4 linked regions of the Homo sapiens genome follow. The protein of the gene in region 2 purifies or fractionates together with the protein of the main gene of each other region. This does not show direct contact. Each region holds a gene or a part of one and is shown on either strand. Other genes may lie near its edges. The genes, in order: PLOD2, HNRNPH2, NUDT16L1 and HNRNPA3.

The links.
Region 1: the proteins of HNRNPH2 (region 2) and PLOD2 purify together in Homo sapiens (affinity purification with mass spectrometry; 2 studies listed by BioGRID and IntAct, with this or other methods). This does not show direct contact.
Region 3: the proteins of HNRNPH2 (region 2) and NUDT16L1 purify together in Homo sapiens (co-immunoprecipitation; 2 studies listed by BioGRID and IntAct, with this or other methods). This does not show direct contact.
Region 4: the proteins of HNRNPH2 (region 2) and HNRNPA3 purify together in Homo sapiens (affinity purification with mass spectrometry; 2 studies listed by BioGRID and IntAct, with this or other methods). This does not show direct contact.

Annotation. Positions count from the first base shown.
Region 1 is NC_000003.12:146,157,759-146,166,409, reverse strand, and holds the start of PLOD2 (procollagen-lysine,2-oxoglutarate 5-dioxygenase 2 isoform 1 precursor), read left to right. Parts: upstream 1-5,225; 5' UTR 5,226-5,420; coding exon 5,421-5,529; intron 5,530-8,651. UniProt on the Homo sapiens protein: Forms hydroxylysine residues in -Xaa-Lys-Gly- sequences in collagens. These hydroxylysines serve as sites of attachment for carbohydrate units and are essential for the stability of the intermolecular collagen cross-links.
Region 2 is NC_000023.11:101,410,455-101,414,964, forward strand, and holds the end of HNRNPH2 (heterogeneous nuclear ribonucleoprotein H2), read left to right. Parts: intron 1-1,481; coding exon of another isoform or gene 1,482-1,534; coding exon 1,535-2,884; 3' UTR 2,885-3,679; downstream 3,680-4,510. Other genes in the region: RPL36A-HNRNPH2 protein, read left to right, coding at 1,482-1,538. UniProt on the Homo sapiens protein: This protein is a component of the heterogeneous nuclear ribonucleoprotein (hnRNP) complexes which provide the substrate for the processing events that pre-mRNAs undergo before becoming functional, translatable mRNAs in the cytoplasm. Binds poly(RG).
Region 3 is NC_000016.10:4,688,098-4,696,782, forward strand, and holds NUDT16L1 (tudor-interacting repair regulator protein), read left to right. Parts: upstream 1-5,464; 5' UTR 5,465-5,587; coding exon of another isoform or gene 5,588-5,629; coding exon 5,630-5,782; intron 5,783-5,880; coding exon 5,881-6,141; coding exon of another isoform or gene 6,142-6,471; exon of another isoform or gene 6,472-6,860; coding exon 6,861-7,082; 3' UTR 7,083-7,747; downstream 7,748-8,685. Other genes in the region: E3 ubiquitin-protein ligase MGRN1, read left to right, coding at 699-811. UniProt on the Homo sapiens protein: Key regulator of TP53BP1 required to stabilize TP53BP1 and regulate its recruitment to chromatin.
Region 4 is NC_000002.12:177,207,568-177,216,255, forward strand, and holds the start of HNRNPA3 (heterogeneous nuclear ribonucleoprotein A3), read left to right. Parts: upstream 1-5,226; 5' UTR 5,227-5,232; coding exon 5,233-5,304; intron 5,305-7,971; coding exon 7,972-8,094; intron 8,095-8,182; coding exon 8,183-8,329; intron 8,330-8,410; coding exon 8,411-8,621; intron 8,622-8,688. UniProt on the Homo sapiens protein: Plays a role in cytoplasmic trafficking of RNA. Binds to the cis-acting response element, A2RE. May be involved in pre-mRNA splicing.

The sequences.
Region 1 (8,651 bases), on a different chromosome or scaffold from region 2:
TTCTCTTGAAGACAAATAAGAAATGAAAGAAATAAAACACCTCAGAAAATAAACCATGCTCATTTTCCCTGTGATAAATTACTGTTTTTGTTGCACGAGGAAACCTGTTTTACTTTTGTGTTAAGCAGGTCATTTATTGTTTAAGTCTAGCTCCTAGGAAATTCTTCCCTTTACTATTTTTGTTTGGTTCTTTTTATTTTTAACTTCTTAAAATGTAGTTGGTCTCATATAGGCTTTGTTTGAAAGGACGTTCAGCCTTGAAAAAGTCACCTGGTAAATCATTCCTGTCAAATTACAGCTTAAAGAATTAAAAGGGAAAACTGCTGGGGCCCACGGACTATACTGCAAACCTCTCATATATAAAGGGGAGCTTCAGATTTGTGGCAACTTGATCATCCTAAAATTAGAGAGGTCATCCCCTGACATCTGCAGCAGAGACCTGATTTAGAATGAAGAGTCACAGCACAAAAGTTCTGCTTCATGGTATTCTCTAAGCCCTCATCTCCAGTTTATATCTTATATTCACTGTAGTTTCTACTCCCATCTAAGTTCTGATCTTAAACTTGTGTTTCCCAATGCTATAATCAATGACCTCTCTGAGGCTTCCTCCTATTCCCCAGTCTCTCTTCTGTAATACTTTTCCTATTTATCTGACTTTAACAGTCTCCTTTGCTGATTTCTTTTTTCCTCTTTCCTCAAAAGGGTCCGCCCTCTCTGAGTTTCAGCTCTTGGATGTCTGGTGGTTTTTCTTTGTCCTCTAATTCATTTAACATCCCCCTTCCTCTGTACCTCCAGGGTTATTCCGCGAATTCCCAAAGCTTTACTTCTTATTCACTCCACAAATATTCATTGAATAAATATTCGTTGACTCCTTTTTCTCTCCTACGCCCACATTCAGACATCAAATTTTGTTGACTCTACATTCAAATCTATCTGGAAATTGACCTTCATTTACTGCTACTGACTTGCTTAAAGCCTCCGTCATCTCTCTCCTGGACCACTGCATTAGCTTTCAAGTTGGTCTACAGGTCTACAGACTTTCTGTTTTATTTCTCCACTCACTCTCCCTTATCTTCCTCTAATGTGGCAGCTGTGGACTCTGTGATCCTTTTTAAATCCTACTTCAGATCATGTCACTGCTCTGCTTAGAACCATCCAAATGGCTTTTCAATTCATCCAGGGTAAAGGACAAAGCTGTTACTAGGTTCTACCCTTATCACACTGTCTGTTTATCTGCTTGCCTCCGCCCTGCTTGTTACCTTCTCAGGCTTCATCTCCTACTATTCTTATGCACAGTCACTGAACATTCAATTGCCCTCTTGCTTCCTCACAACACTCCAGGTATTTCTGGTCTCACAGTCCTTGCACTTCCTGTTTCTTCTGCCTGGAACACAGGTCCCCTGTACATCCTGGCCCCCTCTTTTTCTCACCACTTTCAGGTCTTTGCTCAAGAATCGTCTTCTCAGTGGGGCTTTCCCAGGATCCCTTACTAAGGTTTTGGTATACCTCCCCTCCTTATTGGTCCTTCCCAGTTACCTTTCCTGATTTACTTTCTCTCTACCACTTATTACCTTATATGTTTATCTCTGTTTCACCTGAAACTAAAGCACAGTAGATTTTTGTTTTTTCTGTCACTAATAAATTTGTTTTTACCAATATCTATCTAGAACAATGCCTGAGATATAGTAGTCATGGAATATTTTTTGAATGAATCAATGAATAAACAAATGTGCTACTATGGTACTTACTCTTTGATGATGAAAAATAATTGAATCCTGACCTTAACAGACACACTGTCTAATAATAATTCTAAGAAAAGACCCTGTCACAAATGAGAGAGGTTTGCTTCAGAAGTTAGAAATCATGGAACAGGGACATCTAAACCCATCCTGAGGTAGGGTAAGTTACCCCAGTTGGGCTTCCTGTAGGAGGTGGCACTTGAGCTTGACAGACATTAGCCCAATGAAGGAAGGAGGACAGGTTTTGTCATCCTTTTTTTTTTTAGATATAGGGATAACATGAACAAAGGTATGGTTGCTGAGCAAATGCTGCTTCTCTCATTTCTCCTCAAATTTCCTTACCATTTCTGAGCATGTCACCCTGACTTCTTATGATCAAGAGTTACATCATCAGAGTGGCTGCTACCATAGCAGGTTGGGAATGCCTGGGAATTAATGAGTGTCCCTCAGCCCTTAAGTCAATGACTGATAGGTGTTGGGAATATATATCCCAGTTCTCTGACCCATTGACCAGGATATTTTTGAGTGATATATAGTACATCAATTTTGTGGGATTAAGCTCCCATTACCCACTGTGGTTGATTTAATTGGATATTTTCCCTTTCCTGTGTCATTTTAGCTTCACCTATCTGGTTTTCTCAAAACTCTCCACAAACCGCTAGTCACTGAATTTGGGCTCATGCTTGGGCTTCAGAGGAACCCAAATGATTCCTACCTAAACTTTAGAGAATTAAAGTGACAAAGTATTTGGTCTGCTTTAGGAGATAATAAAGCAAACTACGTTGGTTGGGTTTAGTTTGGCATGAAGGAATCTGAATACTAGGTTAGGGAATGTGGATTGTTTCCAAATCTGTTATGAAATCTGTTTGGGGATGAAGCAATCAAAAGGATATCTGAGTATGATTAATCTAGTTGTGGTATATAGTGGTATTACACTGGTGGTAGGGAAAGTCTACAGGAAATGGCATAGGATACACTCAAGAGTGCATTAGTTAGTGAGGTAGCAGTGAGAATGGAAAGGAATAGATGAAGAGAGAACATGAAGGGAAAAAATGACAAGATTTGGAGTCCGGCTCTGTGAGTTGGCGGGTGTGGGGGATGGAAAGAGAGAAGTAAAAATGTCTGAGGCCATATGAGTTAGAGAGCAGTAGTATCAACAGAGATGAGGGAGCCGAGTGGGATCTGGATTTGATGAGTTAAAAGACATATCAGGCCGGGCTTGGTGGCTCACGCCTGTAATCCCAACACTTTGGGAGGCCGAGGCGGGCGGATCACGAGGTCAGGAGATCGAGACCATCCTGGCTAACACGGTGAAACCCCGTTTCGACTAAAAATACAAAAAAAAAAAAAAAAAATTAGCCGGGCCTGGTGGCGAGCGCCTGTAGTCCCAGCTACTCAGGAGGCTGAGGCAGGAGAATGGTGTGAACCCGGGAGGCGGAGGGAGCTTGCAGTGAGGGGATATCGCACCACCGCACTCTAGCCTAGGCAAAAGAGCGAGACTGTCTCAAAAAAAAAAAAAAAAGACATATCGAGTTTTTGCCAATGGAACATCCAAGTAGAAATGTTCAGCAGATGGCTGGAAATGTAAGAAAGCAGGAAGGATTTGGTTTGAGAATTGGGGCTCTTTCAGACTGTTAGAAATGTCTAGGTATTTGAAAATCCCAACACTTGCTTTATACGAGTCTCACAGCACAGATGTTGTGACTCTTAACAGAGAAGGAAGAATGTCAAAATAACCTGAAATTATTAGTGGACTTTTGGAGTTTAAACACACACACACACCTGTGATGCAGAGAAGCCGGTAAGCATTCATGAGGGGAACGGGGGTTTGGGAGGGCAGGAAGCCAGGTTGTAGCTCTCCAAGTTCTTAAAGATACTGGAGAACCAAGGAAGCAAGAAGTCAAGTTCAAGGAGTTTGGCAATTGCAGGTTTGGCTTTCTGGAGACAGATCTGGCCAAAACACCAGCCATTCCTAGCAGAGTCCTTGGACTCAGAGGACTGATGCTGTTTGCTTTGTGCCTAGTTTTATGAAGCTGTACTTGCCACACATGAAAGGCTGTTATTAAGGAATCCATCTTTTAGCTTTTTTTTTCCCCTTCAGACTAAATAAACCTTATTTCATTCTTCTCACAGGTCATAGTTTCCACTTCTTTAATTATTTGTTACTCTTCTCAGAACTTTCTCCAGTTTTCCTCTTCTTTTAAAAAACTGAGACCAAACCTTCAAAACAGAGTAATAACTGGCTTAGTTCTGGGCACAGGAAATGATTCTTTCTAAAATGTCACATCCCAGGCAAGATTTCTTTGCAGGGTTTTCCACCTGTTTTTAATGCTATCAAGATGAAAGCATTAAGTTCATGTTATCTTGATATGTTAATTTTAGACAAAACGTGATCATAATGGAACACATTTTTCCATAATTTTCTGTCTTAATTTCAAAGGCCCAGAGTTATAACGGGTGTTGTCTCGATTCTGTTTTTTTCTAATTTCACGAAAATTTAGGCAGGAGATTCCAGAATGGTAGCAGTTTGGTTCTCTTTCTCCTATAAAATAGCTTATGTCATTAAATGTATGAGGCAAAACTGTCAAGCTTTTTTCTTAATTGTGCTTTTGCTCCCACTCATTCCAACAAGTTAAACCCTTGGCTAGTTAAAATGTGAGAACAGAAAAAAGGGAATTTTCTTAGACATCAGTCAAAAGTGGAAGCAGTGGGGGCCAAGGCTCAGAGATCTCGACCTCTCCGACCACGTCTTTGGGAGTAATTTTCCATGCGGACTGGAGCACGATCTTGTAAGCACAGCCCCGGCATTACACACGTTGGGCTCCGATTCCGCAGGATTTACAAGCCTCATTACTGGAAAGAGTCTAAGGCTCTCTTGGCACAAGCGGCGGAGCAAGAAATGTTCACTGGACAATAAAACTTTCGGTTTACGGAGTAAAATAAAATCACGGCCTTCCTTTTACAGGGTGATGAACCTGCCCCTGAATTAATGAGGGGCGATCCATTTCCATGGCTTAAGAGTCTGGCGAGGTCCCAGTCAGCCAAGATTGCCGCAGATTTGCAGTCACTTCAGACTGGGTGGAGTATCCAAGTCCATAGAAGAGCAAATTCTCACCCTTCGAGGCTGCTGTGGAAGCTACCGGGGCTGGGACAGCAGAGAGGAACCCAGACGGGAACACCGCCCTCCCGCCAGACTCCCGGCGGCTCCTCCTCCCTCTCCCAAACCCACTCCCAAAGCTAAGTGCAGGCTTCCCCGTTCCAGCCAGAAGCGCTGCGTGAGCCTCCACACGTAGCCGCAGGCAGCTCCTTAAATAGCGTCCGCGCTGAGCAAACAGTCCAGACGTGGGGCCCAGGAGGGCGAGCTGAGGCGACCGCACCGGGCGCGCAGCGGCGGCGGGTCAGCCGGCGGCCAATAGCCAGGGCGCGGCCCGCCCCGTCGCCTCCCCTCGGGGAGCCTATAAGGCCTCCGCAGCGCCCCGGGCGCCTGCTGCTCCGTGCCTCCACCGACGACCTCACTCAGCTGCGTTACGCGCCGCTCCGGCTGCCGGCCGCGCGCCTTGCCCGCCGGCTCCCGCCCGCAATCGGCGGCTCAGGGCGGACCCGGGTCTCTGCGTTCTCGCGAGAAGCGCGGCGCTGCGGGGCCGTGGGCGCCTGAGCCCGCGCGGCCCTCGAGGGCCGAATATGGGGGGATGCACGGTGAAGCCTCAGCTGCTGCTCCTGGCGCTCGTCCTCCACCCCTGGAATCCCTGTCTGGGTGCGGACTCGGAGAAGCCCTCGAGCATCCCCACAGGTGAGCACCCCGCGGTCCGCCGCTGTCCCGCGAGGCTCGGCCGGCGGGGGGGCAGTTCATTCATCCACCAGCCCTTCCGCGGGGCTGGCCAGGTGAGTAGTGGGGGCCTGTCCCTCCTCTCCAGGACCGCCGGGGTCTTCCCCAGAATTGCGGTCGGGCGGCGCTGGTCCCTGGGGAAGTGTAGGGGCACCCGCCCTCGTTGACTCCTTGGAGTTCTCGGTGAACTCAGCGTGCCCGAATTTCCCTGCAGAACAAGTTGGAGTTTCCTTTTGGACTTGCAGGTCATGGGCACCAACACCTTTCCTGCAGCTCTCCTTTCCCCTCCTTTCCGAGAGTTGGCATGGATTTATCCTTGATGGACGAGGCAGTACTCCTTCTGTGACCTAAACACGGGGCTTAGTGTACTTTCTAATTGATGGTGACACATTCCTTCCAGCACCCCAGGAAGCAGCCGGTAACACCTCCCTCTTGCCAAAAACAACGCTCGCTCGAAAACCTTAGTTGTTTTCAGTAAGGCTGCCTGGCTACCCAGTACCTCCAGGCGGCAGCTTTCTTCCTTTGGGATCTGAAGGGGAAGCTGTGGACACACAGCTGCTCCCCTTACCTACCCTTTTCTTGAGCCCGGTGCTGTCTCTCGTTTTCAGAAGCTGTGTAAAACAAAACGTTTTATATTTAGCCAGATTAAAGAGAGTTTCACCACGTCTGTCTAAACATGCTTTGCTGCCTTTTGTGGCACATGAAAAATCCTTGGAGTTTTCCACATTTGTGCTCTTTGTGCTCAACTCTCTGAAATTAGATCTTGCATTTAAATGACCTTCTAATGTCCTTTTTGTTTTGTTTTGTTTTTTGTTAAGTCATCTTGGCACCATTTTTTCCCCCAAGTTTATAATAGAGTGCTTTTCTACTTGAACTTTTCTTAAGCCTAAGGACAGAAATTTCTATTTCAGAGTTACATTCAGAAAGTGACATTTGGTTTGCAGTCCAGCTAATCCATGTAGCGATAGTTTTGTCTTCATCTTTAAGTGTTTCAGAAAGCGTCAGCAGGCTGAACTGCCTATCTTTCTACAAAACAGTGCTTGCTTTGTTAGCTTGAGAAACTTCAGCATTCAGATGGATTTCTATCAGTTACAGGATGCTTTTCTTTCTGTTAGGTATATGTGACCATTTAAAAATGGATTTCTGAACCCGTGTGATTCCTCTAAATTTGAACTAAACTTTTGCATAATTTAAAAATATTTCTTCTAACATAATATCTGGAAAGTAGAAAGTAAATACTTTCAGCAAATTTGGAAGTAGAGAAATTTAAAAAGGAAAAACAGAACAAAAAGCCTTCCCCAGAAAAATGTCTTTCTTTGTTGAAACACCCAAGGAGACTTTAACTGGGAAATAAAATAACCTCTAAGGACTTTGTAATATTTAGAGAGGCCTCTTTGGCCTTTGTATATTTTATTCCACTTCATTGCCAACACCCCTAACTTTTTAATAGAGGACATCCCTTTGTATCTGCCTTTATATTTATAGTCAAAATCAAATTCCCTTCTCACTCTGGATTTTAAATTTCATGGAACTGGACAGTAAACTTTTAATGGATTGTGATATCAGAGAAAGAGAATTTTAGGTATGAAAGTTTCCTCAGGAAACGACCACATGAAACCCACTGTTTAAATCTGAGGACTGGTCACTTGGTAAGCAGGCATGGAGAATTCGGTTAGGGTCGAAATGTGGGAAAATACTAATTTGTGATAGGTGAAGCCAGCAGTAGTCAGTTTGATTACAAATTTCGGTGTAGGTAGGTGTTCTCATAGGTTATGTGATAAACTAATAAATGTAGAGGTAAACTGCTTGATAAAGTGGGCAGAATCATGGACTGTGGTCTATTTTATTCTTTACAAGTTTCAACTGAAAATTACTAAATAGAAGCTTATTCGTTGACATAAATATCAAGATCTTCTATAGGACCCTAAATTGTCTAGCTTAATAGTTCTTTAAGAAGAGTGCTTATCATCTCTAACCCTGTATATTTGTCAACATGTCCCAGCTAACCAAGAAGAAATGGTTTAAATCACAATTTCTTGGCCCTATTGACATTTTGAGCCAGACACTTCTTTGCTTTGAGGGACTATCCTGTGCATTGATGTTTAGCAGTATCCTTAACCTCTGTGCACTAGATGCCAGTAGTATAACCTTTCTAATCTGAGCACCAAAAAAACAAAAAAGGCCTAATGTCCCCAGAGGGACAAAATTGCCCAGGGTTAAGAATCCCTGGATTAGACTAATCTATTTGTATTTGAGGCAATATGGCATTATAGTGTTACTGGAATGATAACAGCAAATTATTTTTGAAAACAAATATTTATAGTGATTTTCAGTTTACCCACTGTAGTTGGGAATGTGATACACATTCATCAATTTTTGGAGTGTAGTTTTTCCTAGCTCTGGTGCTTTGTTGACCAGAGTTGAGAACATAGATTTTTGTTAAATTTTTGAGAGTTCTGTGTGCTGTATTGATTCCTTTTGGTTGCCACTTTATTCTTAGCATGGAAAGACTAAATAAGATTTTGGCTAAAATAATCATTTTCTCTGAAAATAACGTATAGGAATTGTTACCTGAAAATTATATCCTTATGGGAGCTTTCAGAGGCAGAACCTTCTTAATCAGTGCCAGTAAATCAGGTTCATACCCTGATTTATCTTTCCTGCCCTTTCTGCCTTCTAGATGGGATAAGGAGAAGGTGGATGTATTCCTGCCAAGTCTTTGCCGTCATGTCTCCAGACCTGGATAAAATTTGTGTGTGTTTTCTGAGGCACCTTACTATTCTATGATCCAAACTGGGCAGAAACCAAGTTTTGGGCAAAAACAAAGGAAATGGTTTCAAATGTTTCTGTCAAGACCAGTATTTTTGTACCACATTCATTCATTTATAAACTCTCTAATTTACTGTGGTACATTCAAGGAAAAAAGGAAAGGTTTGTCCCTATCTACTGATGCAAACCAGCAATTTATGGGGTGGAGAGGAAAAGAGCAAGGGCCTGGAGAAACCTCTGGAAGAGAGAGGGTCTTGTCCTCTGTACTTTCTGTATTCTGTGCTTCAGCCACACAGAATGACATATCATCCATAAAC
Region 2 (4,510 bases):
TTAACTTGCTGGAAGATTGATTAAATTTGAACATTTCCCAGATTCCTCTCCTGTATCCTCCTATACCTGTATTCTCTCATACTTAATCTGTTATCAAGTCCCGCAGATTCCACTTTTTTTGGTATGTGTAGATACATCTTTTCTCCATTTTACTCCTGTTGCCTTAGGCGATTCCTTTAACATATATTTATGAGACAAGTTCTAACTAATCTCCCTAGTTCCACGTCGACCCCCTTCTGTTTGAGTGCCACGCTGTTGCCAGGGTGATCTGTCTGAAAGAGTTTTGGTGAAGTCACCCTACATACTCCCCGGTTTAAAAGTCTTAAAAGGCGCTTAGTGTTTGTATATCAAAGTCTTTGGGATCTGATCTATGCCTTGCCAGTCTTTTCACTTGCTTTTCCCTCTCCTATTTGTGCTTCATCATAATTAAGAAAAAAAAATGTTTATGGATCCCTGGGCAGATTAGTCTGTTTCATTTAACCATTTGGCCTCCAACCAATAGAACTGATCAACTAGTCCCTCTTTGATACTATGCTTACACTCCACTCAGAGGGTCATGGCAAGTATAATGTATATTTGCATTTACATCTTTAATAATGACATTCGGTGCTCCTGTAGGACCATAAGCCCATTCTGGGCTTATTGATTCTTGTATGCCAGAGCCGAATATTGGACATGGCAACTAAAAAATGTTTCTAAAATGAATGTGTGAATTCCCAATAATGTCTTTTTTTCATTTATCTCTGGAGCCCAAATATTTCCCTGATTTTATTGATTTGCATACATTTTTATATAATGAAGATATTATATAAAGAACTTACATAACCTGTGTTTTGTTTGTGTTTTAATTGTTGTTTAATCTTTTGATCTAGTGAAGTTTTTTATGTTTATATATTCAGATATAGCCATCTTTTATTTGTTGACATCTCCCACTGATTTGTTGCTGTTAATTTTTTTTTTTTTTTTTTTTTTTTTTTTGAGACGGAGTTTTGCTCTGGTCGCTGAGGCTGGAGTGCAGTGGCGTGATCTTGGCTCACCTCCACCTCCTGGGTACATAAAAGCGATTTTCCTGCCTCAGCCTCCCGAGTAGCTGGGATTACAGGCACCTGCCACCACGCCCAGCCAATTTTTTGTATTTTTAGTAGAGACGGGGTTTCACCATGTTGACCAGGCTGGTCTCGAACTGCTGACCTCAGGTGATACACCCACCTCAGCCTCCCAAAGTGCTGGGATTACAGGCGTGAGCCACCGCACCCGGCCGATTGCTGTTAATTTTTAATGGTATCTAACACGTAATAGGCATTGAATAAATAACTGCTAAAAAATGAATGAGTTAAAAATTTGGTGAACTCTCTGTTTATACAGACGTCTTACAGAAAAGCTGTCAGCATAATTGAATTTTCTATTAATAGTTTGCTTTTTTCTCTTACTATATCACGAGCATTTTTCCATGACAGTAGTCTTCTTTTTTTTTTTTTCAGCTACACCAAAATTGCATTGAGCCAAACTTGCCACCAAGAGCCCAACAATCACCATGATGCTGAGCACGGAAGGCAGGGAGGGGTTCGTGGTGAAGGTCAGGGGCCTACCCTGGTCCTGCTCAGCCGATGAAGTGATGCGCTTCTTCTCTGATTGCAAGATCCAAAATGGCACATCAGGTATTCGTTTCATCTACACCAGAGAAGGCAGACCAAGTGGTGAAGCATTTGTTGAACTTGAATCTGAAGAGGAAGTGAAATTGGCTTTGAAGAAGGACAGAGAAACCATGGGACACAGATACGTTGAAGTATTCAAGTCTAACAGTGTTGAAATGGATTGGGTGTTGAAGCATACAGGTCCGAATAGCCCTGATACTGCCAACGATGGCTTCGTCCGGCTTAGAGGACTCCCATTTGGCTGTAGCAAGGAAGAGATTGTTCAGTTCTTTTCAGGGTTGGAAATTGTGCCAAATGGGATGACACTGCCAGTGGACTTTCAGGGGCGAAGCACAGGGGAAGCCTTTGTGCAGTTTGCTTCACAGGAGATAGCTGAGAAGGCCTTAAAGAAACACAAGGAAAGAATAGGGCACAGGTACATTGAGATCTTCAAGAGTAGCCGAGCTGAAGTTCGAACCCACTATGATCCCCCTCGAAAGCTCATGGCTATGCAGCGGCCAGGTCCCTATGATAGGCCGGGGGCTGGCAGAGGGTATAATAGCATTGGCAGAGGAGCTGGGTTTGAAAGGATGAGGCGTGGTGCCTATGGTGGAGGGTATGGAGGCTATGATGACTATGGTGGCTATAATGATGGATATGGCTTTGGGTCTGATAGATTTGGAAGAGACCTCAATTACTGTTTTTCAGGAATGTCTGATCATAGATACGGAGATGGTGGGTCCAGTTTCCAGAGCACCACAGGGCACTGTGTACACATGAGGGGGTTACCTTACAGAGCCACTGAGAATGATATTTATAATTTCTTCTCACCTCTTAATCCCATGAGAGTACATATTGAAATTGGACCCGATGGCAGAGTTACCGGTGAGGCAGATGTTGAATTTGCTACTCATGAAGATGCTGTGGCAGCTATGGCAAAAGACAAAGCTAATATGCAACACAGATATGTGGAGCTCTTCTTAAATTCTACTGCAGGAACAAGTGGGGGTGCTTACGATCACAGCTATGTAGAACTTTTTTTGAATTCTACAGCAGGGGCAAGTGGTGGCGCTTATGGTAGCCAAATGATGGGAGGGATGGGCTTATCCAACCAGTCTAGTTATGGAGGTCCTGCTAGCCAGCAGCTGAGTGGTGGTTATGGAGGTGGTTATGGTGGTCAGAGCAGTATGAGTGGATATGACCAAGTTCTGCAGGAAAACTCCAGTGACTATCAGTCAAACCTTGCTTAGGTAGAGAAGGAGCACTAAATAGCTACTCCAGATATAAAAGCTGTACATTTGTGGGAGTTGAATAGAATGGGAGGGATGTTTAGTATATCCAGTATGATTGGTAAATGGGAAATATAATTGATTCTGATCACTCTTGGTCAGCTTCTCTTTCTTTATCTTTCTTTCTCCTTTTTTAAGAAAACGAGTTAAGTTTAACAGTTTTGCATTACAGGCTTGTGATTCATGCTTACTGTAAAGTGGAAGTTGAGATTATTTTAAAACTTCAAGCTCAGTAATTTTGAACACTGAAACATTCATCTAGGACATAATAACAAAGTTCAGTATTGACCATAACTGTTAAAACAATTTTTAGCTTTCCTCAAGTTAGTTATGTTGTAGGAGTGTACCTAAGCAGTAAGCGTATTTAGGTTAATGCAGTTTCACTTATGTTAAATGTTGCTCTTATACCACAAATACATTGAAAACTTCGGATGCATGTTGAGAAACATGCCTTTCTGTAAAACTCAAATATAGGAGCTGTGTCTACGATTCAAAGTGAAAACATTTGGCATGTTTGTTAATTCTAGCTTTTTGGTTTAATATCCTGTAAGGCACGTGAGTGTACACTTTTTTTTTTTTTAAGGATACGGGACAATTTTAAGATGTAATACCAATACTTTAGAAGTTTGGTCGTGTCGTTTGTATGAAAATCTGAGGCTTTGGTTTAAATCTTTCCTTGTATTGTGATTTCCATTTAGATGTATTGTACTAAGTGAAACTTGTTAAATAAATCTTCCTTTTAAAAACTGGAAAAAATCTTGAACTGATTGATTTTTATTATGTTCTGTCATATGGGCACACTGATTGACTTTACAATTCCCTCAAAGTTAAGATTTTTAATTTTAAAATTATAAATGATATTTAGCATCTTTATATGTTCATTGTTGCATATATCATTAATTATTTCTAAGATATATCCCTAGAAATGGGATTGCTGAGTCAAAGATATACTCATTTTTAAGGCTTCTGATTTGTGTTACCAGAAAGATTCTGGTACTTTATCTTTCTACTTGGAGTGTGTGTTTTATTTTCCCCCTTATACCCTCCTTATTGATGCACATTATTCTTTTTGAACTTTGCCAGTTTTTTAGTTGAGAAATGATATCTCATTGCTATTTTAATTTGTATTTTTTTGATTAATATTAAAGTTGTACATTCTTTTTTAAAAAAAACTTACCATGTCTACAGGACTATTGAGCTACTTTTGGAGACTGTACTTACCAAGATAGTATTCTCTAAAATCCAAAGAAGTGAAAGCAAATAAATAATCCTTTTTATTTCACCACAAACTAGAAGGCACGTTTGTATGTTTAAAAAGAAGTAGGCTTACAATTATGTGTTAAAAACAAAACATAAAAAAGAAGCAGGTTTATGTTATGGAAATAAATTGTCTCCTCCATGAATTCATTAGTAGATTCTCTATAAACACTCTCAGGTGTATTTTAGGGCATCTAAAGCTTATCTTAAACCAGCGGTTCTCAAACATTCATGTGCATCAGAATCATCTGCAGGGGTTGTTTAAACATTCATTTCTAGGCCCCATCCCTAGAGTTTCCAATTCAGTAGTTTTGGGATGTTGCTTGAGAA
Region 3 (8,685 bases), on a different chromosome or scaffold from region 2:
CCTTCACCGGAGAGTGGGGCCTGGGCCGTGTCTGCTGGGAGCCATGTGTCAGGGCTGGTGGCTGGGTGTCAGGCAGCCCTGAGGCCATGCTGGCCCCGTCCCAGGCTCTGCACCAGCACCATTGCCCAAGCCCCAGGGACGCCAGACCCATCTGGGGACAGCGCCCGGCGGCGTCGTGCAGGCCACAGTCTGGGCATTGGGGCTCTGTGGGAGGCTCCTCTCTTTGCCTTGCAGTAGCCATCCGGGGGCTACTCTGAGCACGGGCTTGTTCTCACCCAGGGCCGCTCCCCACCCCTGCACCCTGGGTTGACCGAGTTCCACCCTAACCCAGCCGTAAGAACCTTGGCAGGACAGTGGCTGGCCACATCCCAGGAAACCGGAACCAGGGCAAGGGCAGGAGGCCCAGAGGGCATCCACCGCGGTGCCGTGTCGCGCTCTGACTCGGGGCTGCAGATCTGCTGTGGGTGTCCGGGGATCTGGGATCGTCTGTCCCAAGAGGGACACAGCGTATTTGGCACAGTTAGGGAGTCCCCGGGCCCTTGGTGTGCTCACATCTGAGTGAATGCTGTTGTGGCCACAGGCGGCGGGAGTGGGGGTGCTGGATGGCCCAGCCCCTCTGGGGCTCCAGATCGGTAGGAGCGGGTGGCGTGGCACCAGGCATCCGAGTGTGACCCTCCTCCCTCTGCTCCCACCTGCAGGACGGCCCACCTCCATGGAGACGGCCCACGGCCTCGCCACCACCAGCCCCACCTGGCCTCCACTTGGTGGCCCCAGCCCCGATCCCAGCGCCGCCGAGCTGACCCCACTCTGAGAGCCTGGCCGAGCTGGCAGCATGGAGCCCTCGGCTCCCCAGACTTTGCCGAGGGGCTGCTCCGGACCCCGTTGTGAGCCGGCCTCCTGTCTGCATGCCCCCTGTGGCCACCAGGCTCCGAGGGGCCGTGGTGACTCTTGATCAAAGAGCACAGTGAACTGTCCCTTCTGAGTCTCCCTTTTCTACAGTTGATATATTTGTAACTGGTACAAGATGAAGGACAGCAGCTTTCCATCCCTAGTTCAGAGCCCCCGTTCCCCAGGGTCCTGTGGGCTGAGCGGCTGGGGCTGGGGCTGCCCACGTGTGGCCTCCGCTGGCTCTGCCTGCTCCTGCAACAGTGCGGTCCCTGCCCGGAGAACTCAGGAGGCCTGCAGAAGAGAACTGATTGGTGGTCGAAGCACCATCTTCACAGATGTTCAGGGGCAGTGGGGGGCTCCAGGCACGGTCAATGAAGGAAACAGTGCCTGTCCACCCACCCTGCGTGTCACTGTGGCGGCCTGGCTGTCGCTGCTTTTTGTCCTCTGCCGTGTTTGCGCGGCCTCAGTGCCCTCCCTGGTGCGTCTGCGCTGGGGCCCTCAGTGCTCGGGGCCTTGGGGTGCATGGGTGCCGCCCTGGGCAGCTAGAGTGTCTCAGCCCGGTGCTGGGCCTGGCCGAGGGGCGGAGGCACAGCTGCTTCCAGCAGCCAGCATTCAGTGGCCTTGTCACCAAGCTCCACACCTCCTCCTGGTGCTGGCTTTGGTGACATCACAAGGCCCCTCCAGGTGCAGGGGCTTCTGTTTGGCAGGCCCCTGCCAGGGAGGACCTGGTGGCCTCCTCATTCTCTTTTGCCATTGGAATGTCCCCTTGCAGTTCTCTTCTCTTTTTTTTTTTTTTTGAGATGGAGTTTCACTCTTGCTGCCCAGGCTGGAGTGCAGTGGCTCAATCTCGGGTCACTGCAACCTCCGCCTCCCGGGTTCAAGTGATCGTCCTGCCTTAGGCTCCTGAGTAGCTGGGGATTACAGGTGCCTACCAGCATGCTCGGCTAATTTTTTTGTATTTTTAGTAGAGAAGGGATTTCACCATGTTGGCCGGGCTGGTCTCAAACTCCTAAGGTCATCCACCTGCCTCGGCCTCCCAGAGTGCTGAGATTACAGGCGTGAGCCTCCGCGCCCGGCCCCCTTGCAGTTCTCTCTGATTTGGTTTGTTCTGTCTCAGGCTTCTGTGGCAGGACTGGCCCAGGGAGGAGGAAGCCAGCAGCACACCTGGGGAATGGGGTCCCGGCCGGGAGGCTTGGCCTCTGGGCGACCTCGTCCTGTTTTTTTTGTTTGTTTGTTTGTTTTTTTAAAGGTAAACCTCCTGGGCCGCAGATGGCAAAGGGAGTGCCTGGGCCTGGTGACCCAGGGCTGGATCCACCCCTGCGGAGCCCTGGGCCAGGCAGGTGTCTGCTGCTCACCTGGCTCTGGAGGGCTGCCCTGCAGCTGGGCCTGGGGACAGGTCGGCTGTGGGGCAGCTCAGTACCCTCCCTGAGGCTCACGGTGGCTCCGAGCATGAGGTCCGCCTCCTGGGCGAGACCCAGCAGTGGACAGCATGGTCCTCACACCCAGCTCCCTGCACACCCAGGCCAGCCACCCCTCCCGCTCGTGCACAGGCACGCAGATGCGCTCACACGTACACACACACAAATGCACGCCCACTTGCACATGCTCACGCACATGTTCACACATGCACACTCACGCTCACACATGCTGTCACGCATACACACACGCACATACTCCTGCACATGTTCCCATGCATGTGTGTGCACTCGGACCGAGCATCTCCCACGCACCTCTACCCCACCCCAAGCACCTCTCTCCCCCCATGCACCTCTCCCCAACAACACACACAGCCCCCTGCACCGCCCGCCCCCCGCCCCCACCAAGGCCCCAGCCTCTGGCCATCAGTCCTGGTGCCAGAGCTTTGCGTGAAGTTCGGGCCGCAGAGTGGCCCGCTGGGACTCCCATGTGCTGCCGTCTGATGTGCTCAGATGGGCTCATCGTTGGTTCGTTTTTACTGTATATTTATAGTAATAAAATCATGCAGCAATATCCTGTCTGCTCCTTCCTCCGGGTGCAGCCCTCAGGATTGTGGCTGTTTCCTGACCCGGAGTTTTGCCGCTGGGTGGTTGGCGGTGGCTCCCGCACCGTGGCAGCTCCACGGCCTCTGCCTGGCTTCCCTCTGGGGTCAGGGCAGTGAGCAAGGTGAGGGCTAACGAGAACGGGCAGCTCCCAGCCATCCCTGTCAGGGCTAGTTGTCTGGTTGGAGGGAAGCCACACCCTCCAGATTGGGCTCTCTCGTGAACAGGTGGTTGGGGAGCCCAGGGCCTCCAGGTTTGTGAGTAGTCGCTCCGGTCCCCATCTCTAGTCCTGATCATCTCAAGGCATTTGCTGAGCACCTGCTGTGCGTCAGTGGAGGCAGAAGAGCTGAGGCCCCGGCCCTGGCCCCGGGCGCCTGCCTTCCAGGCAGTGAGATGCCCAGCAGCTAATCAGAATCCTGCCAGGTTTGGTTACTATTAGGAAGAAAGTCAGCATGGTGGTGAGATGAACCCGTACAAGGTCTCATTTAACCGGGTGGCAGGGAGGGCCTCTCTGAGGAGACTTAAACAGCCCTGAGGGCTGAGGAGGAGCTGGCCCTGGAAGAGTGTTCCAGGTGGCAGGAGTGAGCCTGATGTGTCCCCTGGGGACGGAGCCCCTGGCTGGAGTGAAGGGTGCTGGATAGATACTGAAGAGCTTGTAGGGGCTGCTGGAGTGTTTTTATAAGGGGGAGTCAGTTTTAAAAACAGGCTTCCAAGCGGAGAAGCAGTGCTAGCACCCTGCGGCTGGCGTGTGGAGGCCGGACGGTGGGAGCAGGTCTAGCTGCCCATGGTTGTGGGCTCGCAGGCTGGAGCCCGGCCCCAGGCCTCTGCACAGCCCCCGCTCCCCTGCCCAGGGAGTGGCCAGTGCCCCAGGGCACCCACCACACCACTGCCTACCACTCAGGGCCCCAGCTCCTTTGCGTGCAGGTCAAGCTGCCACCATGGCCCTTCTTTGAAGACTGTGAGGGTGGAGGGAAAGCCCGTGTTCTAGCCCATCAGTCCCTGCCCCGAGAAGGCTGCCACCCATGGGCCCTGCAGCTGCTCTGACCTGCCTGGGTCTGGCCCCATCCCAGTGTGGGTAGAGGGGTGCCCAGGGTGTCAGACGGGTGCTTGCATGGGCCAGATGGGCTCCCCCTCTGTACCTCCCAGAAGAGCCAGCGCTTGTATTGATGTCTGGTCTCGGGGAGGGGCTGCAGCAAGGGGAGCCTCTCCTCCTCTGCCCCTGCGTCCCACGGGCCCTGGGCGCTGGCTGGGCTTGGCTGCCTAGGGGTGGGGCCCTCTTTGGGTGAGAGGACCCTTCCCCTCGCTGCCCTCTCGCCTTCTCACATGGTCGCTCACTCTGGAATCTGGACTTCCCCTGCTGCTTGCAGCTGTCCCATGTGACCCCTGACCCACTGGTGGCCACAGGAGGAGAGAGAGGTGCCCTCTCTGGGTCCTTATTCTCCACATCTGAGGCCACCACGGACCTAACAGGTGAGTTTCCAATGCCCACCCTCTCCCTCTCTCTTCTCCTGCCTGCCTCCACTGAAGGCAGCCTTCTCTGTGCCAGCGAGCTCGGCCTCACTGCACGGCTCTCCCGAGGCTGTGCCCCAGCCCTGGGCACCCATGCTGTGAGTGCAGGCAGGGGGGTTCATGTGCTCAGCAAATCCATTCCCCTGGTGGGGAGGAAAGTGGCCCTGGGCCCTGCTGCTGGTGAGGTGAGCCTTGCCATCATGGAGTTCAGGGCACCTCGCTCTGCCTTGGGCTGTTTCGGATGCTTCTGAGCCCCAGAGACATCTCCAGTACAAACACAAGGTAAGTGGTAAGTACCTCAGGCCCTTGTGGAATCGGGATTCTGCCTCTGTCATCAACTGCCAGTTGTACTTAGGCAAGTTATGTCCCTCTCTGAGCTCCAAGTTCCTCATCGTAAATTGGGGAAACCCCTCTTCCCCCCACAGTACCTGGCACAGGGTGCCCGGCTTGGAGGATGCTGGAAAGGTCCAGCCCCGGAATTTAAGTCACTTTCTGCCCAGCAAGCTGGGTCCACAGAGCCCCAGAGCTCCCGGTCGTCCGCCCTGACCCAGCGTGGACTCGGGGACTGGGGCACTCAAGCCCTGCCAAGCCCTGCTCCCCGTGCTGTCCTGGATCGAGCCTGCCAGCAGGGTGGCTAGGTCGGGACAGCTGTCGTGCATGGCAGGCGAAGGCCATCTCCCTCCGGGCTTGGGTCCGGTGGCGCTGGCGGAGCAAGGCTCCGGGGCATCTCTGGCTCGTGTGGTCGTGCCAAGGGTGCCATTGCGGATGGACGGGGCCATGCGGGCCGGGTCGGCCTCCTGGGGAGAAACGGGTGGGCGCAAGGGGATCGGCGCCATCGAGGGTGGAGAAACCGCAGGGAATTTCGGCTGTCCGCTTTGGGGCGCCAAGGAAGATGTTCGTCGCCCACAATGTCAACCTTGAGCCACCACGGCACCGACCAGTCGTCTAGGCTCTCCCGTCGGAGGCGGGGCCGCCGCCCAGGGTGTGCGACTATTGGGTGACGGCTGACGCGCACCGCCCTCCTTTGCACACCGCCCGCAGCACCTCTCGACGACGCACCGCGGCGCTGCGAGGGGCTCGGTCCCGGGGCGCGCCGGCGATTGGCGGGGGAACCGGACCCGGGGGCGCGGCCGCCCGCGGATTGGCGAGGCACGGCGGGGGCGGGCTCGCGCATGCTCTTAAGTGGCAGCGGCGGGGACGGGGTCAGTGCCAAGATGTCGACGGCGGCGGTTCCGGAGCTGAAGCAGATCAGCCGGGTGGAGGCGATGCGCCTAGGGCCGGGCTGGAGCCACTCGTGCCACGCCATGCTGTACGCCGCCAACCCTGGGCAGCTCTTCGGCCGCATCCCCATGCGCTTCTCGGTGCTGGTGAGGACGGGCGAGGGCGCGGGCGAGGGTGCCGGCGCGGGCGGGCCCGGGCGGGGGCGTCCGTCGACCCCGCGGCTGTGACCCGCGCTCCCTTGCAGATGCAGATGCGTTTCGACGGGCTGCTGGGCTTCCCCGGGGGCTTCGTGGACCGGCGCTTCTGGTCGCTGGAGGACGGCCTGAACCGGGTGCTGGGCCTGGGCCTGGGCTGCCTGCGCCTCACCGAGGCCGACTACCTGAGCTCGCACCTGACCGAGGGCCCACACCGCGTCGTGGCGCACCTGTACGCGCGGCAGCTGACGCTGGAGCAGCTGCACGCCGTGGAGATCAGCGCGGTGCACTCGCGCGACCACGGCCTGGAGGTGGGGCCGCCGCCCGGGCCCCGCCCCCCGCCCCGGGGTTTGGCTCTGGCCCCGTGGAAGGCACCGATGGGTAACACGTCTCCTGAGGGTCCCCTGGCCGGGCTGGGTCGGGTGTCGCTGTCTCCAGCAATGGGGTGGGGAGAGGGGTCTGGGGCTGGGAGGCCGGGAAAGGAGGGGCGGGGGTGGGGGCCGGCGCTGGGGCTCCCTCAGGGCTGTGTTACATCCGCCTTGCTGCCTGCCATTGCCAATCCTGGGAGTGGGGGAGTGGGATCGGTGGGGAGGAAGGGATGGGGGAGGAGCGGGGATTGCTTGGGGAGTTGGGAAACTTGAGCACAGCGGGGGTTGTAAAACTTGGGAACCTCATGTTGGGCGTGAAGGCTCTTGGGATTTGTACTTTGTGGTCTGGAAGGGCTGGACTGCGGGTGTTCAGGCTTCGTTGGGTGGACGGGGGGAGCATGGGGTGCGGACCCCGGGGTGGGGTGGCCTGGGTACGAGGGGGGGGAGTGCATGGGGTCAGCCTCCACACTTGCTTGGGGAGGAGGGGGCTGCACTGCTCCGAGGGAGCTGGCTGGCTTCTGCCAGGCCCTGCGTGGGTCTCCCATTAAGTCCTTGGCAAAGCTGGCTGCTCATACCCTGGCCTCATAGCTTCCAGGCCCCTCCTGCTGGAGGTGCCATTGTGTGGCAGGCCTGGCCCCAACCCCTACCTCCTGTCTGCGCAGGTGCTGGGCCTCGTGCGGGTCCCGCTGTACACCCAGAAGGACCGAGTCGGAGGCTTCCCCAACTTCCTGAGCAACGCCTTCGTGAGCACGGCTAAGTGCCAGCTCCTCTTTGCCCTCAAGGTGCTCAACATGATGCCCGAGGAGAAGCTGGTTGAGGCCCTGGCTGCAGCCACCGAGAAGCAGAAGAAGGCCCTGGAGAAGTTGCTCCCGGCCTCCTCTTGAGGGCTGCCTGAGCTGGTGGCACCCTCCCCTGGGCCGGAAGACTGGGAATTCCTGCTAAGTGTGGCTTCTAGAGTGTTTGTGTGTACCCCGCTTCTGACTGCCTAGGGCGAGTGGGCATCCTGTCATCATCTCCACTGTCCCAAGCAGTCACTAGGTGGCGGCCGGGCCAGCTGGAACCCAGCCCATCCTCTCAGGCAGAGCAGGGTGGTCCGGGCACACTGGGCCTGCCTCTCCAGCCTCAGGATGCTCTTGTTTATTCTGGGCTCAGACCCTCCTCTTGTACGTCTCATCACAGCTGGTAGAGACCCAGGAGTGCCTGATTGTCCCACAGGGGTGGCGCACAGCTCTGGGACCACTCAGAAGATGGGATGTGTGGGTGGAGGATGCCTTGTCTCGGTCAGCTCATTCCTGCCTCCTTCCTGAGCCAGTTCAGGGCCTGGGGGAGAGCCAGCTTGGGGTAGGAAGTTAATAATACTGTTAATTTGGGTTGTTGTTGGATTTACTTTGCTAGATTTTCTCTTTCACCACGTGTGAACTGTGGGTGAGGTTTCAAAGTAGCTTCACCCCACGTGGCTTGGTTCCCAGGGACAGTCAGGGCCTCGGGGGCCCAGCTATGTACAACGAAGCTGTCGAAGGAGAAGACAATAAAGTCGCTCCGCAGCTGCTCTGTGTGTTTCTCAGCTGCCCTGTGTGTTTGTTTTGGTTCTGGATGGAACCAGCTCAGGCCCCCTGCCCTAGGTGGGGGAGGGAGGAGCTGCCCCAGCCAGGGGCACGTTTGTTCCCCAGTGTTTACTGGGGGCACTCCCAGCATGAATGCTGTGCCCATCAGCCAGGTTGGGGCGTCTGGGCCGAGACCTTCAGGGCAGGCTCCCCTTCCTGATCCTGGTGGCCCTGGCTGCACCTGGGCTGACCTGCTTTGCTTTGCAAACCCACCATTCCCCACTGTCTGCAAGCAGCTCCAGGGGATGGTGTAGAAGTGCAGGCTTACTGTGCAGAAGGACAGCAGCAGAGCCATCCCTCGTGGTCTCCTACAGCCCCACATCTGGAAAGACTCCAGCGGCATCGTCAGAAAATTTGCACAGCCCATGCCTGGCCCGGTGAGGGAGGCAGTGTGCCCAGCTCCATCTCAGAGCTCGGTGTGAGAGCAGCATGTCCCGGGGGAGGCCCTGTGCTACGGCGGGCTGGGGATGTTCTTGGCTCTCAAAGCCTTATCTTGAGTTGTCTGGGCTCCAGGAGCAAAAGACACACCCCTGAACAGCAGAGGACAGGGCAGTCAGGGTTGCTGCATTGGCCAGTGCCTCATGTCATGTGACCAGAACTGAGCCCTTCACTAGCTGTTCTTAAATTTTATTTTCCAAAAAATGGCATTTTCCAGGTGCCCCAGTCCTCATTCCTAAGGTCCCACCTCAGTTGGCACCTGTGCGTGTATATGGATACACTTTCCCCCCAGGGCCCTGCCTGGTATGGGCCAGGGCAGCCCATGAACTCTGGGCCTCACCACGAGGTTCTGGGTGAGGCCCTCGTCCCGCCTCAGTGCTGGCCCGAGCTGCCGAGCCAGGGCCGCAGCCCCCGTCTTGCCTCTGTCTGCCGGCTGCTCCCGGGG
Region 4 (8,688 bases), on a different chromosome or scaffold from region 2:
TAGTTCGTTCTCATGCTGCCATGAATACCCAAGACTGGCAATTTATAAAGAAAAAGGTTTAATTGGCTCACAGTTCCACATGGCAGGGGAGGCCTCAGGAAACTTACAATCATGGCAGAAGGCACCTCTTCATAGGGCAGAAGGAGAGAGAATGAGTGCAAGCAGGGGAAATGCCAGATGCTTATAAAACCATCAGATCTCCCGAGACTCACTAATTATCATGAGAACAGCATGGGAGAAACCACCCCCATGATTCAATTACCTCAACCTGGTCCCATCCTTGACATGTGGGGATTACAGGGATTACAATTCAAGGTGAGATTTGGATGGAAACAAAGAGCCAAACCATATCAAGGTCCAACAGGGCACTGAAGGGGACCCAAAATATGTCATCCATGATTCATATATCTAATGTTGAATATTCCATAAATAAGTGAATTGCCTACTACAGAGCCAATCACTGTAGTGGTCTCTGGAAACATAAGAAACATAGTGAACAACACAAATGTATGATAGATTTTTAAAGAAAAGGTTGTTACCTTCAAGAATATTAAAATGTAAATACAGTGATTATATGACATTCTAATTCAGCACTTTACTTGCAGGGCCTATATAATTTTAGTCAATGTATTCAACTTTCCTACATCCCAGATTAGGGAGAATTTACCCTCCTAAGTTTATTAAGGGAATGAAATCAGGAACATAATGTACGTGGCCCATTACAAGGTATACAGTAGTATTCAATAATGTGAGTGACTATGATGAATTTCCAGCACCTAGCATTGCCTGGCACATAGTAAGAGTTTGGTAAATAACTTTGTTAAGTGGAAGAGAAAGGAAATTTCAAATCAATCTGGATAGTTAGACATACATTGGTAAAAATAAAACAAATATGTTTGTTTCATATATATAAGCATTGATTAGGCCAACAAGAAAATGTGAGAGGATATGTAATAAGTTGTTGATCATGGTCAAATCTATGTAATAGGATTTTGTGGGGAAAGACTTTTTGTGTGTGTTTTACTTTATAAACTCCTTATTTAAAAATCAAGATTTTAGAAAATAAAGCTTTGGTATATTCTGAATATAATGGCACATAACAAAGCTTATAGTTTATTACAATTCCTCCCTTTTAAGGGTTACCTTCTTCCCTCATGCCTGTAATCCCAGCACTTTGGGAGGCCGAGGCGGGTGGATCACAAGGTCAAGAGATGGAGACCATCCTGGCTGACGTGGTGAAACCCCGTCTCTACTAAAAATACAAAAAATTAGCCAGGTGTGGTGGTGAGCGCCTGTAGTCCCAGCTACTTGAGAGGCTAAGGCAGGAGAATCACTTGAACCCGGGAGGCGGAGGTTGCAGTGAGCCGAGATTGTGCCACTGCACTCCAGCCTGGTGACAGAGCGAGACTCTGTCTCAAAAACAAACAAAATGAGTTACCTTCTTCCAGCCAGGCACAGTGGCTCACGCCTATAATCCCAGCACCTTGGGAGGCCAAGGCGGGCGGATCTCTTAAGATCAGGAATTCCAGACTAACCCAGCCAACATGGTGAAACCCTGTCTCCACTAAAAATACAAAAATTAGCCAGGCGTGGTGATGCACGCCTGTAGTCCTTACTACTTGAGAGGCTAAGGCAGGAGAATAGCTTGAACTCAGGAGGCAGGGGTTGCAGTGAGCAGAGATCACGCCACTGCACTCCAGCGTGGGCGACAGAGCAAGAGACTCTGTCTCAAAACAAAAACAAAAACAAAATTAGCCGGGCATGGTAGCATGGGCCTGTAATCCCAGCTACTTGGGTGGCTGAGGCATGAGAATTGTTTGAACCCAGGAGTGGTAGGTTGCAGTGAGCCGAGATCATGCCACTGCACTCTAGCCCGGGTGACAGAGTGAGACTCTGTCTCAAGAAAAAAAAAGTCTAGATCAGAAACTGCATAAAGCCACTTCAACCATAAAACCTAATATCAAAATGTATTCACAGGAACAAGTTCAAGTTGATCACTAAAAAACACGGAAAATTTTAATTTGAAAGTTTTATGCAAATTCAATATTTAATATCATTCCTAATACTTTGTATTTTATCAAAATCAGATGCTTAAAACATTACCACCACTTAGATGCCTCCAAATATCTTCTAGTTTACCCTACTATGCTGTACAAAAATGATTATTTTCTGTATGTCATGATATAAAGGAGAGGGCCTGATATAGATTATAAAGTTTGTCTGCCACCCATCTCACCCTAGGACCCTCATTCCCTCCTCCCATCCCATACACTCCCTTTCTCATATCAAAGAGTCAGGGCTGCAAGTGCAGACCATAGCCAAGGTTCAAGTCTGTGCCCTACAGGGTCAAGGACTGGAAAAGTGGTTTTTGTACCTGAGACATAACTGGACCTTAAGTTTATTTATTTATTTATTTTTTGAGATGGAGTCTCGCTCTGTCACCCAGGCTGGAGTGCAATGGCACGATCTCAGCTCACTGCAACCTCCGCTTCCCAGGTTCAAGCGATTCTCCAGCCTCAGCCTCCTGAGTAGCTGGGACTACAGGCACCCACCACCACACCCGACCAATTTTGTATTTTGAGTAGAGACAGGGTTTCACCATGTTGGCCAGGCTGGTCTCGAACTCTTGACCTCAGGTGATCCGCCCGCCTTGGCCGTCCAAAGTACTGGGATTACAGGCTTGAACCACTGCGCCCAGCCAGCAGCGTGATCTCGGCTCACTGCAAGCTCCGCCTCCCGGGTTCACGCCATTCTCCTGCTTCAGCCTTCCCAGCAGCTGGGACTACAGGCGCCCGCCATCACGCCCGGCTAATTTTTTTTTTTTTTTGTATTCTTAGTAGAGACGGGGTTTCACCATGTTAGCCAGGATGGTCTCGATCTCCTGACCTCGTGATCCGCCCGCCTCGGCCTCCCAAAGTGCTGGGATTACAGGCGTGAGCCACCGCGCCCGGCCTTTTTTTTTTTTTTTTTTTTTTTTGAGGCGGAATCTCGCTCTGTCACCCAGACTGGAGTGCAGTGGGGCAATTTCAGCTCACTGCAACCTCCGCCTCTTGAGTTCAAGTGATTCTCGTGCCACAGCCTCCCAAGCAGCTGGGATTACTGACGTGTGCCTCCATGCCCGGCTAATTTTTGTATTTTTTTTAAAAGTAGAGACAGGGTTTAACCGTGTTGGTCAAGCTGGTCTCAAACTCTCCACCTCAGGTGACCTGCCTACCTCGGCCTCCCAAAGGCCTGGGATTACAGGTGTGAGCCATGGCGCCCGGCCAGAGCTTGTTTAGACAAAAGCATAAAAAATAACTAATGTCTAAAAACAGCATACAGTCAGGATGAACAACAAATCTGGACCAATACAATAGGGAGGACAAAAAGATGTGAATAAATGGGCTGACATTTCATGTTCCTGGAGAGAACTTAGTATCCCATCCCACATTGTTTCGCGATTTAACATTAACATTTATACAAAAGTTACTAATTAGAACAAAAGTTATTGATTAGAATTAACTTATTAGAAAAACCTGGACAAACATACCCTAAAGTGCAGCCAGGTGATCACTCTTCTTGATCACCTATGTAATGTCTCATAGAGTACTCTGGTGTGAATAGCAATTTCCAAAGGTCTTTCACTTTGCATTTTTCTTTGTATCCAGAATCGATAAAGTTACCAGGACTATTTCACAGTAATTAGACTTACAAAATCTTAACACTAAATAGACGCTAAGGCTATACATTCTTCCAATGTCTCAAGTCTATTGCTGGCCATCAGGAGCACCTGGATACGTAGAACATAAGAAAGTTTGCGAAAAAGGAATCAAAGCAACAGGAGGAGTCTGGTTTGAACGGTTATTTCAACCAAATTACATTAAGGACTGCTAACTGTTTTCTGCCCCACAAAAATACCCTTTGTAAATGTTTCCAAACTATAACACAGGTCCTCCTGGAGCAACGGCTAGATAAATTAACAAACTTTTAGACTTTACGCTCCCCTTTTCCAAACTCCAAGTCGACCACTCCCCATTTGTTAACAGAAACTTACTATAACTGATTAGATTTCTAACCTTTCCTAGGGAGAGCCAGTTCAATTCTAAAAGGGTTGGTCACATGGGTTGCTAAATTAAAATATAAAGCATTTCCTAACAGGGAAGGGAGGCTGGTCAATTGTGGTTATTTTTATCAGTAACTTTAAATATGGATCCATAGATTATCAATTTATGGCTGTCGTGGGTGTTAGAAGATGACCTAATCCCATCCCCATTTTCATTTAAAAAACTGAAACTAAAGCTCTGTAAAATCAAATGATTTAAAATCATCTGACTAGGCCGAGAAAGGATTAGCTCTCTAGAGCATTACGGTAACAATCATTCGCAAACAGGTAGCATTATCTGGCGACCCTGCTTTTCTGGAAATCTTGTCAATTATTCAGTTCCTTAAATTCCGTCAGCTACAACAGATGCATCAGCTCTTTCCACACTAACTTGAAAGAAGCACATTAGAAAATAGTCCTGACTTGTTTCTTGAGATCAGTAACTAATGAACTGACCTCCACCAGTCCTGCCTCAGGTCGTTAATGGTAAAAATTCTGTATGTCAGCCGCGTTTTGAGGCCTGTCCAAGGTGCTTGTGAGTCCCACATGTTGGAGTCGCAGGGCTTTTCAGTACATGCCCTCAGGCAGGCGGCGCAGTCACAGACACTGGTCCCCGGCATTTGGAAACAGGAAAGATGGTCCGAGGGGCCGAGGAGTTTTTCTTGCAACCTTTAAATTACAAGCAAGAAAAACGTGGGTTTTATTTCGGGCACAGGAATAGAATGAATTCTGAAATGGAGAACTAGAGGCCTGCGTGGGGAATGAGGGACAAGCGCGAGAAGAAAGGGAAAGGCCTTTCTCTCTGGTGACGCGCGATCACAAGGCGTTCCCTCTACGTGGACGCTCACCATTGGCGGAGACCGCACTGACGTCCCGGAACTCGCCCTGACGCGAACGGCGGCAAAGGCCCTCTTCCCCTGAAAGCTGGCGAGGCGCGCGCGCTCCCGCGGCACGCCGCGCCTCCGCCCTCCGCCCGCCAACCCGCTGGTCCAGTCCCTCTTCGCGCCCGCTTGGCTCCGCCCCCTTCCCAATTCGCTCCTCCCCCAACAGACTGGCGGCGCGCGGAAAACGCGTCACGTGACGACTGGCCCCGCCTCTTCCTCTCGGTCCCATATTGAACTCGAGTTGGAAGAGGCGAGTCCGGTCTCAAAATGGAGGTAAAACCGCCGCCCGGTCGCCCCCAGCCCGACTCCGGCCGTCGCCGTCGCCGCCGGGGGGAGGAGGTATTAGGGGGAGAGCGGGGGGTTGGTGGGGAATGGCCGGCGTTGGGGGCCTGGTTCGGTGGGAGCGGGGAGGCCGGGTGGACCGGGTCGGCCGTCCCGCGCTCTTGCGTTGAGACAGGCTGTGGGAGGGGGAGGGGAGCGAGAGTTGGAGACCTCCTTGGGGCCCCTCGCCCGCCTCGCCTTCACCTTCGGCTGCACAGGCGGCCCCTTGGAGGCGCGGCTTGGTCGGGGAGGCCTCGGGAGGGAAGCCGGCCTGCCGGCTGCGCGGCCTCCGAAGCGAGGCCGAGGGCGGCATGGCGGGCCCCGGCGGGAGCGGTTGGGAGGAGGTGGTGGGGGAGGGGAGGGGACGAGCAGGCACATCCGGGCGAGCGAGCAAGCGGGCGGCGGCCACATTGACATTGATCCGCCGCCGCGTTACGAAATGGCGCATTGGCCCGCAATGGCCGCCGCCTCGCTCTGCCGCCGGGAAAGCGAGCCTGGGATTGGAGGGAAGAGGGCGGAGGCGGCCCGGCAGAAAAAGCCGCAAATGGCCTCGAAGCATGGGGAGGTAGTGCTTTCGCTGAAGTTCTGCCGACGCTTTTCTAGGCCTTTTACGGGTCCTCTCCGCGAGAAGTCGATAATTGGCCTTTTCTTTTTTTCGCAGCATCCTGTTGGAAATACGAGATTGTTAAAAACTTTGCTGCTTTAAAATACTTCCTGATATATTTTTGCTAAAGTACTTACATTACACTTCTTAAACCGCCATGTGGGCGAAGGACTTAATTTTTGAGAATTTGAGTGTAGATGTGAAAAACAACCCAGCCAGCTCCTTCCCGGCTCCGGCCGCTGAGGAGGGTGGGTGGAGAAGAATTTGAGTATAGTATGTTAAGGAAGAATTTAGAAATGTTTTTTATCTTCATGTTTTCCCATTCTTTGAGTCGGCTCTGGTTGTAGTTTCCTGGAATTTTATTTAGAGGACTGCAACCAGAGTTGAAATTTTCACGTTTTTGCAGTACATTTAATGTGGATCCTAAATATTTTTGTCGATTTCGTTATTGTCAATCGAATACATTTATCCAAGACTTGAAAAGATGAGATTACATGAATTAATGCTTTAGGCTATTAACGTTTTTTTCTAGCATGTGACAATCTCTTCACATTAAACGGTTTAACATCTCTACCTCTAGGAGACACAGGAAGACATTAGAATGTAAATGTGAGCCCCTTATTTAAGAACTTCGGGTGAAGGAAACCTTAATGCATGCATTAAATGACAGTTCATGCAATGTGTTAAAAAGTCTTGACTAAAGTATAAAACAATTTCAAGACATCTTAATTCTTAAAAATCTCAATTTTTGTTTTGCTGTACTCCGTTCTTATAGTCAGACAATACATACCATTCCTAATGTAAGTCCAACTTGCCAGTTAGTTGTGACTCTTAAAATTGAGTTGTAAATTGCAGATTTTTGCAGCATATAACAAACATGGGTTATAGAAAGCTATTTGATCGGCTTTTTTTTTTCCTCAGTTTTTTTGGGAAATGCTGGTTTGGCTTAGGAATGCCTGTTTTAAATTAATTTGCTTGAAAGCAGTGAGTTTCTGTAAGTTTGACATTCAGAACTTTTAGATTGTTCTTCATCACAGTTTTGAGTTTAAATGTATGGGCCGGGCGCTGTGGCTCACGCCTGTAATTCTAGCACTTTGGGAGGCCGAGGCGGGCGGATCACGAGGTCAGGAGATCGAGACCATTCTGGCTAACACGGTGAAACCCCGTCTCTACTAAAAATACAAAAAGTTAGCTGGGCGCGGTGGCGGGCGCCCGTAGTCCCAGCTACTCGGGAGGCTGAGGCAGGAAAATGGCGTGAACCCGGGAGGCGGAGGTTGCAGTGAGCCGAGATCGCGCCACTGCACTCTAGCCTGGGCGACAGAGCGAGACTCAGTCTCAAAAACAAAACAAACAAAAAAATTAAATGCATGTTGGGTTGTAGACTGAGAAGAGTTGAAATGGGATAGATGCAACACTGCTTCTCCAACAGTTTAGTGCCTTAGAAAATGACTTACTAGCAACTTCTAAAGTAAAGGTTCTCAGACAGTTGTAGCTTTTAAAAAATGAAGCGATTTTTTGATTCTGGAATTGTCTTGGATTTCAATTTAGTTGAAGTGATGCTGGCATTTGAAAGGCTGGTTATAGGTTTCCTTGACATAAGTTAGCCCCTTTAACAGTTGAAGTCTTATTTCTGGTCAAAGTTTTTGTTGTTTTGTTTTTTTGAGACGGAGTTTTCGCTCCTATGGCCCAGGCTGGAGTGTAATGACATGATCTTGGCTCACCGCAACCTCCGCCTCCTGGGTTTAAGCGATTTTCCTTTCTCGAGTAGCTGGGATTACAGACGCCCGCCACCACGCCCAGCTAATTTTTGTGTTTTTAGTAGAGATGGGGTTTCGCCGTGTTGGCCAGGCTGGTCTCGAACTCCTGACCTCAGGTAATCCATCTGCCTCGGCCTCCCAAAGTGTTGGGATTACAGGCATGAGACATCGCGCCGGTGTCTGGTCAAAGTTTTAACTGGACAAAGTGTTAACTGTCACAGGAATTTGATGTTGATTTTATTACTTACCGTACATTAAAGGCTCTTCGTGCATCTTAATTCATCTACTGTAAGGTAACTTAAGAGTATTGGTTCTTTCTCTCAGGGCCATGATCCAAAGGAACCAGAGCAGTTGAGAAAACTGTTTATTGGTGGTCTGAGCTTTGAAACTACAGATGATAGTTTACGAGAACATTTTGAGAAATGGGGCACACTCACAGATTGTGTGGTAAGTTACTAAGAGAACAGAAGGGTTCTAAGGGGTGTAGAGAACCGGTGGAGGTGTTTTCAACGTTATAAAACTTTTTATTTTGTAGGTAATGAGAGACCCCCAAACAAAACGTTCCAGGGGCTTTGGTTTTGTGACTTATTCTTGTGTTGAAGAGGTGGATGCAGCAATGTGTGCTCGACCACACAAGGTTGATGGGCGTGTAGTGGAACCAAAGAGAGCTGTTTCTAGAGAGGTATTTTAATAATACATTGTGTAATATGTGAAATTGTTGTGAAAGTTTGTTTCTTGACTTAATATATTACTTTATTTGTAGGATTCTGTAAAGCCTGGTGCCCATCTAACAGTGAAGAAAATTTTTGTTGGTGGTATTAAAGAAGATACAGAAGAATATAATTTGAGAGACTACTTTGAAAAGTATGGCAAGATTGAAACCATAGAAGTTATGGAAGACAGGCAGAGTGGAAAAAAGAGAGGATTTGCTTTTGTAACTTTTGATGATCATGATACAGTTGATAAAATTGTTGGTAAGTAGCAATTTATGGTAACTTGAATGAGAAAGTAGAACTGGTTTTTCTGTTTTGAACTAAATTT